2 separate regions of the Homo sapiens genome follow, and region 2 is linked to region 1. Evidence: fine-mapped expression QTL. A gene starts in region 1. The other region holds a variant in brackets. All regions are shown on one strand. Distances are between the middles of the regions.

Region 1 (5,355 bases):
CAGGGGGGCCGGAATGAGAACCCCACTTCAGCACTGAGCAACACGCGACCACCCCCAAGAGGCGGGGTCACGTCCCAGCTGTGTGACCCCGGGAATTGTTGGCCCTGAGATCATCCTTGTACCATGGGAACCCACCTCTTGGGGCCACAGGGAGAACGCACCAGACCATGCCTGGGACGCCCAGCAGGGCAATGGGCAAGTTTGGGAGGGAGGTGGCTGCTGTCCTGCCGCCCCCAGGGACAGACTCCGGACTCTGAGGCGGGTGTGGACCTGGAAGCAGAGCTCCAAGCTGATCCGCACCCACCAGCCGGGCAGCCACAAATTCACTAGAAACCTCAGGGGCCTGCACCAGCCCACAAGGTCCCTGGTCGCCCTCCTACTGCCGCCATCAACCCAAACGTCCCGTCCTGCGCCTCCACTACAGGAGGTTCACCGTGGCCACCACCTGCTTGCAGCCGGTGACGGCAAACTCGCGGCCAGCCACGCGGTAGAAGCTGAGCTGCGCGGCCAGGTTCTCCGCGCGGGCCTGGTCAGGAAAGAAGCCCTCACCCGCCATCTCGTCCCGGAAGCAGCTGACCACATCCCGCTTGTCCAGCAGCAGAAACGGCACGATGGCCGCGGCCTGCCACAGCGGATGCTCCCGGGACAGCACAGCCAGCAGGCTGGCGCGCAGGTCTTCTTCCGCCTGCGCCGCTGCGGCCTCGGCACTGCGGAAGCCGTCGGGGCGCAGGGGCAGCGCGCGGGACGCGTTCTGCAGCACGAAGCGCGTGACCTCGGCGCCACCCGCGCCACTGAGGAGCACGTAGATGGCGTTGTGGAAGTGGTGGGAGCGCTGCGGCTGCAGGAAGCCGTGCAGCTCGTCCAGCAGCGGCCGCGGCATGAGCTCCACGTCGTCCAGCACCAAGAGTGGGGTCTTCTCCTCCGCTTCGGCCCGCGCCACCACGTCGGCCACGCGCCGCGCCAGCTCCTCGCGGCAGTCCTGTGCGGCGCGCGCCTCGGGGCAGTGGTGCCGCGCATGGTATTGCAGCACGAGCGCGCTGTCCTCCAGCACCGAGCGGAAGTGGCGCGCCAGCAGGCGGCCCACGTGGCTCTTGCCCACGCCACTGGGCCCGTGCAGCGCCAGGAGGAGCGGACGACTGTGCACATGCGTGGCCAGGTAGTCCCGCATCAGCGCCACGATGCGCGATACGGCAGCGGGCTGGCCGAACACCGCGCGCTGCAGCGCTTTCTCCAGCCCGTCGAGGTCATAGCGCTGCGCGTTATCGTCCAGGTTCTCGATAGCGTTGAGAACTTGGAAGCCCACGATGGCGACTAGCAGCAGAAGGCAGCGCTGCGCGCGGCTCCTGTGCTCCACGCGCGGCCGATACTTGCGCGAGGTCTCCGGGTAAAGCACCAGGCGGCTGCGCCGGCGCTTCTTGCGTGGCGTCCTGGAGGGTAGCTCCGCGGGGCTGTCGAAGGTGAAGAACTTTGGCTGGTCCAGGTCCGCGCGCGGTGCCCGGGGGCTGCAGCCCGGCCTGGGCGCCCCGGTCCCGACGTCGGGCCCCCCACCCGGCTGCAGGAGGCGCCGTTTGCGTAGGACACACACCCGGCGGCGCAGGCGGAGCACAGCGCGCACGGGCGCGATCACGCACCGGCCCGAGGCTCGGGGGGCCGCGGCAGCAGGCTCCAGGCTGGGCTGGCCGCGGTCCATGTCGCAGGAACGGCGCTCCGCATACAGGTCGCCCTCCCTGCAACGGGAAGACGGGGAGGGTCTCTGGACTCCCGCCACTGCCCTTTCCCGCGGGCCGCCGGAACCGGTCCCCGGAGTGATCTTACCCCCTGGGAGTCCCGTGGGGTGCGGCCCGGGCTGCCCCAGGGCCAGGGGCCTGGTCGCGGCCTCGCCCCTCAGACCGGCAAGCGACCCCTCCGCCCCTCCGCCCCTCCGCCCCTCCGCAGGGCCCCGATGCAAATCTCTCGGGTCTTCCCATAAACGGCCGCGGGCCTTGAGGAAGTGGCGGGGTAGAGGCTTATCTGGTGGCCGCCCCGGCTTCCTGGAGGAGTCGTCGAAGGAGTCAGTGGCCGCCCAGGCGCCCACTGGGGTGAACAGTCACCCCCGGACCCTGCCCCCGCCCGCGGCTCCCACTGGACTGGGCCGTCTCCCAAGGAGGGGCCGCGGGAAGCAGAGGCCTGAGCGCCCAGGAGTTCAGAGACGCCCCCACACGCTCCAGAACACTTGGCGGGGGTCTGGCTGGAACTTATGATTTTGAGAATAGGCCCGGGCCCCGTCCCCAGGCTCAACCCAGGCCTCCCAGCCCCGACTCCAAAACTGGGGTCCTCCCAACACCCCTCCAGTGAACGAGCTGAGCAGTGCAGGGAGCCCCCCGGAGACTAGTGGAGGTGAAACGAAAAGATGGACAGAAAGAAGAGGCCGGTCGGAGCAAGAGAGCCACTGACTGGCAGGAACTGGGCCCTGGGCCCCAACCCACCCCCTACCTGCAGCTGGTCCACTGCCCTCAGCTCCGCAGGCCCCTGCCTGTGCCAGACGCTGGGGCCTGAGACTCCAAGCAGGAAATGCGCCTCCCAGGGCGAGGGGGTGGGCCAGGGGCCTCCTGGGCCAGCTTCGGCCTGGAGGGGCAGCGACACCTGTGGGTCCCCAGGGAGCGGCCGGCCGGAGTAGAGGAAGCTCTGGGGAGGTTTCCGCTTCTATGCAAAGGAAGTGAGTCAGGGGGTGCGGCCCAGGCGGGACTTGGGCTGGACGGAGGCGCCAAAGGGGGGAGGCCTGGCCGGCTTGCCCAGATCCCCTGGCCGGAGGTCACATTCCCGCTTCAGTTCTCTAGCGCTCAGAGCCCTCCTGGCTTGGTCAGGCTCAGGACACCTGGTGAGGCCGAGGGCCCCTGCTGCATGCTGTGCCCCCACCCTGGGCTCCTGCACCTCAGCCTGTCCTCCAGGGCCCCCACCTCCCCCAGGTTATCCCTTCCACCTGTCACCCCACACACAGGGCTTACAGCTGGGGGGAGGGGCTCCAGGCCCTGTGTAAGCAAGGCGGGAGCAAGGCAGCAGCACAGGGGGCGGGCAGGGTCCTCTGCCGAGCTGCATACCCCCAATCCCTCTCTTATTACTCCTCTCCCCGCTTTTTCATTCCCCTCCTGACCCCAATCGGGGGCCCCCCAAAGTGGGCTCATTGTCTTTCCTTTCCCCCTTCCTCCGTCCCCAGCCTGGAGCCCCCTGCCCAGGACAGGCCAGCACACACAGACGGAAGTTCTATCACGGAAAAAACCACGTGCGGCTCAGGGTCCCTGTGGGGGTTGGGGAACAAATTTAGAAACAACTTGGGCCGGGAGCCAGGAGCTGGAGCTCTGGGCCCTTCCCCCTGCCGGCCTGCCTAAAGGACCCTGGACTCCTCCTACCCTGGCCCAGCCTGGAAGCCGCCTTCCAAGGAGGGGCAAGGTGGCCGCTCCAGCCACACCAGTGCTGCTGGCATTCAGCTCAGGACCCCGCAGTCCCAGGGACGCCCCACTCCTCCCAACAGCCAGCCCGGGCCTGATGGTTCCAGCTGTATATTCCTCACACACTGCACCCAACCAGACAGGCTCCATCAGGGAAACCGGTCGTGGGTTGGGGGTTTCCATTCTCTCCAGGGTATGGGGTCCACCGGACTATCACGCTCCCCTCCAGGAGCCAGGCCTAGGGCTCCCCTCCCCTGTGCAAGGGGTGCTCGGGGGCCCGGATCCCCAATTGTCGAGGCCGCGGGGGCCGCACACACCAGGTGGAATGCTGGTGCTCTTTGGGCCCACTCCCCGGCCTCTGTGGGACCAGAGCGGAAGGAGGTTGGCTGTCCAGGCCCCGTGGCCCCAGCACGGAGGTTGGGGTCCTTTGGGGGCCTCAGGCTTTGAGTCTCGGTGCTTCTTCTGACACAGAGAGGACCCTGGAGGGGAGGCCCTCGGGCAGATGCAGGCTGACCGAGCCCTGGAAAACCTGCAGCAAAGCCTCTGCCCTGCCTCCAAGTGCACCCAGGGCTGGAGCTGCTTCTGCCAGAGGCTGGCCCAGCAAATCCTCAGGCCAGAGCCCTCTGCAGGAAAGGGACTCGCTCAAGGGGTGCCCCAAGACCTGGCCCTATGGGTCAAAGGTGAATCTGAGGCCTGGGCCAAGGCCTCACCCCCTGCACTTTCTCCCATCTACAGGGGTGAAGGGAGCCCCAGAACCCCAGCTCCCAGGGCCATCACCATCTCCTGTGATACCCAGGGCCACCCCCAATCACACCCATTCCCATTCCAGGAGGCCTCCCCTCCCGCCTCCCTACCCAACCCAGCCCTGCCGCTGCGCCCAGAATTCATGTCCATCACCCACAAACACAGTACATGTTCTCAGCCTCTGAAAGGACTTCACCCTCACTGCTTCCCCCAGCCCTTGCCAGCAAGGTTGTTTTCCCCAAACCGTGGGCAGCCTCCCCACTTCTCCTCCCAAATTCCCCATAGGTTTCACTTCACCAGACGATGCCTCCCGTGCCTGGGCCCTCGGTCCTCCCCTACCAAGTCCTTCTCCCTAACTTCCCAGCAGCGTCCACACCCAGTCGCTCAGGCAGCTCTGCTCTTTCTGCCCCTAAAGGCTTTCGCTACAGTAACCATGCGCCCCCGAGGCTCAGCCGTCCACGCACGGTCCCATCCCAGTCCTTGCAATTCACACCCTCCACCTCACCAGTCCCTCACCCACGGGCTCCTCACTCTCTGTCCTTCACTCCCCACCCGTAGGCCTGGCACCCCCTGCAGGCGCCCTGGACAGGACGCGCCCGCTGCCCAGTGACCAAACCAGGCACCCGGGTCCACTCACTGACCATTCCTCCTACAGTCAAGTCCTCTACTCGTCCTCTCCCCTGCCACTTCCCCCTATCCTGCCTCCTAGCCCAAGACCTGAGAAAATGGGAGGCAGCAGCAGTGGACTCCCAGTGTCTCCTCAGCCGTCACCCCAGCATCTGCGCCCATCAGCCCTCCTCTGAGGACACCCCTGCTGTGCTGAGACCCCGGCCACCTGCTCATTCAGTGACAGCCCAGCCCCTGGACCATCCTCCACTCCTCACCCTACTGGGTCATTCCCATCAGCCCAGAAACATCTATTTCTTCTATCTTTAAAAAAAAACCAGGCCGGGCGCGGTGGCTCACGCCTGTAATCTCAGCACTTTGGGAGGCCGAAGCAGGTGGATCACAAGGTCAGAAGATCGAGACCATCCTGGCTAACACAGTGAAACCCCGTCTCTACTAAAAATACAAAAATTAGCCGGGCGTGGCGGCATGTGCCTGTAGTCCCAGATGCTGGGGTGGGGGGGGCGCTGAGGCAGGAGAATGGTGTGAACCCGGGAGGCGGAGCTTGCAGTGAGCCAAG
Region 2 (5,355 bases), 48 kb after region 1:
TTCCTGCCTTTCCAAGCCAGAAGCCCTTGGGACCCTCCCTCGCAGGAGCAGGAGGGGAGGGACGGATGGGCAGAGGTGGCCGGTCTGCCCCAGGACAGCACAGACACCCGGTTGAGGGACACGTGTCTCCCCAGAGGGGGCCTGCATGGCGGAGTTCCCCACACACAGCCTGTTTGGGCAGGCCCCACCCTGCTCTGTCTCCCCAGTCCCGTTGGGGACAGAGGCCTGCCAGCCTGCCACCCCCGGAACCTCCAGACCCACCTTTCCAGGGCTGGCTTGTGTCCTTCAGCTGAGGGAGGGTCCAGGGGTCTGTGTCCCCTTCCTCCAAGACTGGAGCAGAACTGGAGGTCCCTGTGGAGGTAGAATTGAGTACGGCTGTTTCCAGGACCACCTCCCTCCAACTGGGGGCACAAGGGCACAGGCCGGAGGACGGGCTGAGGCGTAAGAGGCCTGGAGTGAGGGACAGAAACGGAACGGGGAAGATGGGGCTCCAGCTGGGCTGGACCTGAGTGGAGGCGTCATGAGCCCTGTGGGTTCCCCGGGAGGCCCGCAGGAAACCTGGCCTGTCTCTGCCCAGTGCCTGGGGGGTGGGTGGTCAGACTGGTGAAGGCCTGGGGCACAGGGGCCACTGGTACCTTCATTCCTCAGAGTCTTTTCCACTAGGTCAACCGCGTCCAGAGTGGGGTGGGGGACCTGGCTGCCGGGAAGGGAACTCGGCATGGATTTCGGGCAGGGACAGACCCAGGCCCAGGTCTAGATCTGCTGGGGGGGACGCGCGTGTCAGAGACATTTCCTCCTGCCCCGGCCCTGTCCTCACAAGCTGGATTCACACCCCTGGGTCCCCTGAATTGAGCCCTTGGCCGCCACCCTCCCTCTCTACGCCCTGCAGGCCTCAGTGACCATCCCCCTTTCTCCATCCACAGGGGGATGGCTACAATGACCTCAGGCAGTTGTCAGGCGAGCCCAGTCCAGTTTCAGGGGTAGACTCGAAGGGGCTCCAGCTCCCCGGCTCCCTTGCTGGTCCTGACTGGAAGGCTAGTGCCGAGGGTGCAGGCCATGAGCTGGGGAACCTGGGGACCTCCCCTATCTGGTGTCATCGGGGACACTGTGGATGGTCCCGACTTAGACTTTGGCATTTGATACTAAACAGTGACGTCTCGGCTTGATAAGGGCCCCACGCCCTGGTGATGGGGAGCAGGTGGGGTCCTCACACCACTTCAAGGCTCCTGGCCCCGAAGCTGCTGCCTTAGCCTCCTGGGCCTGGTCACCCCACCCCTGGGGCCCCCCACCTGGACCCCTCCACCTAGTGCCCTGGGCTCAGGTCCAGGCGTCCTGTGCCTCACCCTCCCTCCTGCTGCCCAAGCCTGGCGTCTCTTGCCCTTGGGTCCTGGAGACTCAGGATGGGGCCCAAGCCCTTGGCCTGGAGGCCACCCAGCCTCGGCCTCACTGTCCCTGGGCCTCAGCCTGGTCCTAGGAGCTCCTACCTGTGTGGGTGGTGAGGGGGCACCTGCAGGGAGGAGACACGGGGCGGGAGCAGTTGCAGGTCAAAGATCCCCTGATCGCGCACATGACCTGCTGGGTACTGAGCCCATTAATGTTTACCCAGGAGCCCAGGCCCTCACGGGGGTACCCTCCTGGCCCCAAGGCCCCTAGGCCTTGTCTCCATCCTGTCACTCTGTGGCTAGGACCTCCAAGCCCCAGCCCAACCCTCCTGGAGTGGGGCTCCTCCCAGGGGTGGGCTCTGAATCAGGCCGAGGGCACTGCGGGGCGGGGCACCGGCCCTCGGTACTGGGCATCCTCAGCAGGCATCCGTGTGACCCAAGAGACACACTCCACCCAGCCAGGCAGGATGCTAGAGTATGGCTGGGGCTGCCCGGGAGTCGAGAGACGCCAGTCCCCCACTTCCATGCACCTCAGGGCTCCCCAGACCTTCTCAGGGTCATCCCTGCCCTCGGCAGAGCAGGGGAGGGAAGCCCTTTGCACCAGGTGGTGGGGGAGGACGGGCTTTTTCACGTAGCCGGGGAGGGCACCCAGCCCGAGGTCAGAGGGTTCAGATCCGGGTTCAGGGCAGGGTTGGGCCCAGCAGGCTGCTAGCGGGCTCGGCCCTGGTATAGCCAGCGACGGCGGCCGGCAGCCTCCATCTGCAGAGGGGAGGACAGAGCTCCCCAGGCCACCTTCCCCACCCGCTGCCTGGCCCAGCGCACAGTTCTCCCCAGCGGAGTCCCAGCTGGCCCCACCGCCTGTGGGGTGTCCCCTAGGAGGACTGGGCCTCTTCCTGCCCTGGGGTGCGGGGCAGCTCCCCCAGAGGCTCACCCTGCCCAGGGGCTGCTGGTGCCCTGCTTTGCTTGCTGCCCAGCCCCCGCTGTGTGCATGGGGACTTTGCCCTGGAGAAGGTAGAAGCTTCTGAGTGTCCGCTCAGCAAATTCTCTTCCGTCTCCCTCCTGCGCCCTTGCTCTGGGGGTGGGGGGCAGCAGTCCTTCCCTGGGGCTCCTGAGTGACAGCTCGTTCCAGTGGGGGTGGGGGTGTTGCAGCACTGACTTGGTGGTAACTGCTGTCCACAGTCTGGCCCCAGCCCCAGCCCCGGCCCCTCAAAAGGGTCTGTGTGGTGGCTGCTCGGAGCCAGGAAAGGTTCAGCGAAGGATGAGACCAACTGGGCTGTGAGACCTCAAGCAGGCCCCAGCCCTCTGTTGGCCTCAGGCAGGCCCCGCCGAGGCATCCCCTTCAATGCCTGTATGGCTTCGTGCCTACACGAGACCCTCCCAGAACCGCACCCGACACACAGTGGGAACTCCATGAGCTTTGTTGAGTGGGTGAATTCACAGGGCTGCCATGCAGGGCAGGGAGGAAGGAGGTAGTCTTGCCACCCTCCCGGTACACCCCGGGGACGTCTGTGGGAGAGGGGAGACCTGCTCTGGGCAGCCCGCCAGGCATAGCCAGACCGGCCCTGCCCCTCCAGCCTGCAGCCCAGGCCCCCGGGACGCCTTCGCATCCTCTTGGGAGCCATCCTTTGCGCTGCGTCTAGGCCCAAGCCAGGCTTGCCGCCCACTCAGACAGCAGTGTCCTCACCAGGCACATCCGGTCGGGCTAGTCTGGGGTCTGGTAATTGTGGCCAGGACAGGTGG[G/A]AGGTCACCAGCCTCCTGCGGAGCCTCCCAGCCCCCAACCTTAGGCTGTGGCCTGGGATGTTCACGGCTGGGATGACACCACCCTGCTGGGCCACACGAAGCTGCGTATAGGATGCTACTGCCAGGTTGTTCTGAGTGGGCTGAACCCATGATGGTGTGTGGTCAGGGGTTCCAAGGCAGGCATTTCCCCTGCAGGGGTGGGAATGGCCAGAGTTCAGACCTCGGGGCTGCCTAGGGGTGGGCAGCAGAGGCTGCCACAGCCCCAGCAGCAGTATCTGGGCTGGGGGAAGTGGGGCTGGGGTCCCAGGGCAGGGCACAGCCCAGCTGGCTGCCGAGTGATGGCGCTGCCTTTGAGGGAGGTGAGGGGCAGGGGTTCTAGTCTTGCCGGCTCCCGCTCAGCCTTGACCGCCAGGAAAGCAGCCAGGTCCAGGTCTAGCATGGCCACCCCTCCGCGAGGCGTGGGCGTGCTCTGACGGCACTGCGGACAGGGGATCCAGCGCTGCTCGGGCGCCGGTGTGTCCAGCCGCCGCACACACGCCTGGCAGAAGGTGTGTCCACAGTAGAGGCGGCGGGGCAGGTGCCCGGAGAGGTCATAGGCCGAGCAGCAGATGATGCAGTCTGTCCTCTCCTCCGGGGGCCCCCCTCCTCCGAGGCCTGGGGGCCCTCCGGCTGCAGCATCCTGCCAGAGGGAAGCCAGCGGTGGACAGCCTGCCTCGAGGACCTTCCGCCTGGATGGGGTGCTGGCCCCAGGAGCCCACCCCAGAGGTCAGGCGCTGGGTCTGTGGGGGTGGTGCGTGCAGACCTGGGAGGGAGCGTGGCACCGGGCACAGGCAGAACCAGGGTCTGCACACTTCTGGTTCATGTGGGCACCAGCCGGGCAGCCTCCTGTTCCCGCAGCACCACCCTGGCCCAGCTCCAGGCCCCCACCCTCCTGGCCGACCTGAGCCCAGGCCTCTTACCTGCATGGGCTCTGCTGGGCAGCTATGCACAGCCACGGGGTGGCCGGAGAAGGGAGTGGGGGACCCAGGGCGCCCTGCGGCTCCCTCCTGGGTTGCATTACTGGCCTTGCACGGGAGTCAGGAGAGAGGCAGGTGGCCAGCTGTGGCGGGCGTGGGCTCCCGTTTCAGCCACAAAGCCTTGAAACTAGATCTAACGGCACCACCCACTTGCAAGAGATAAGGTGCCCCCCGCCCCCTGCCCACCCCCTCCTGTCCAGACCCAGCCAGCTTCTGCTAACACCTTATCCAGGCTGGCCTTGGGGTCCATTTCCCCACTCTTAGGGCTTCTCAGCACGCTCACACCCTTCGCCACACTCAAAACCTCCCTCACCTCTCCCCTCCCCCACCCTCCCCCTCCCCCTCCCCTCCCCTTCCCTCCGCTCCCTCACTCTTACCCTCTCCTTCCCTTAACCTCCCCTCCATACTGGAATGTTTTCCTGCCTTGGCCTCTGCTCACATCTCCTCCTCTAGGAAGCCTGCCAGGGTTCCCTCCTGGCTCAGAGCCTTCTGCAGACTTTGCCACTGTGCTTGTCTGTGGATCTGTGTGGCTTCTCAGCCTCACCTTGATGCCGGCTGGACGGCAGAGGGCTGCACCAGTCCACATGGACTCCAGGTGGCGCACCAGCTCCGTGTCTGGGGATCCCCGCTCCCAGCTCGGGACCCCAGACAGTGCCAGACGCCTCCTTGGTGGGCAGCTCCTGGCTGCTCTGCCCGTCTGCAGCCTCCAGGCCACCCTGGGAGGCCCAGGTTCCGGGAGGTATGATCAGTGTGTCCACACCAGACTGCAGGCAGAGCAGAGTTGAGGGACCAAGAAGGGTTGGGACAGGTGGGCAGGACCCCAGAACCACTCACAGCCCCGCTGGGTGGAAGCAAATGGCCCCTCCTCACCCCTGCCCACCTTCTTGGCAGTCTGCCCCCAGGACTGGTCAGACAAGTTCTCGTGGCTGGCCTGGGTGTGGTCACCCTCTGGTGGGGGCCAGCAACGGGGCAAGGCGGGGAGCCTGGCACGCTAAGTCCTGGCACAGGGTCAGGGCAGTGACCCATCTGTCCCACGCCTGGAGACCTCTGCATGCCACGCGCCTGCCCTGCCCTGCTGTGGAGCTGGTCACCATGCGTCAGGGAAGGGCTGGCATGGCGTGAGGACCCGTCTGTCCTGCGTGGCCAGCTCGGCTGCCACCTCCTCGCCTTGTCTCTGCCCTGCCCGGAACACCAGGGCGCCCCAAGCTGGCCTCAAT

The links.
Region 2: its variant is fine-mapped to the expression of TOR4A in whole blood (TOPMed, PIP above 0.99).

The regions. Positions count from the first base shown.
Region 1 is chr9:137,275,025-137,280,379 of GRCh38, reverse strand. TOR4A (torsin family 4 member A) reads right to left here and starts at 2,654. Exons shown (of 2, transcript NM_017723.3): 1 at 2,473-2,654; 2 at 1-1,727. The coding sequence starts at 1,690. The coding sequence ends at 419. RefSeq lists silencers at 2,094-2,153, 2,434-2,753.
Region 2 is chr9:137,227,068-137,232,422 of GRCh38, reverse strand. RNF224 (ring finger protein 224) reads right to left here and starts at 4,921. Exons shown (of 3, transcript NM_001190228.2): 1 at 4,562-4,921; 2 at 4,082-4,271; 3 at 2,783-3,801. The coding sequence starts at 4,087. The coding sequence ends at 3,337. SLC34A3 (solute carrier family 34 member 3) reads right to left here and starts at 1,522. Exons shown (of 13, transcript NM_001177316.2): 1 at 1,485-1,522; 2 at 636-759; 3 at 262-351. The coding sequence starts at 720. RefSeq lists enhancers at 2,225-2,725, 3,993-4,618, 4,813-4,962, 4,752-5,252 and silencers at 4,643-4,712, 4,532-4,826. The variant G/A (reference allele first, on the strand shown) is at 3,123.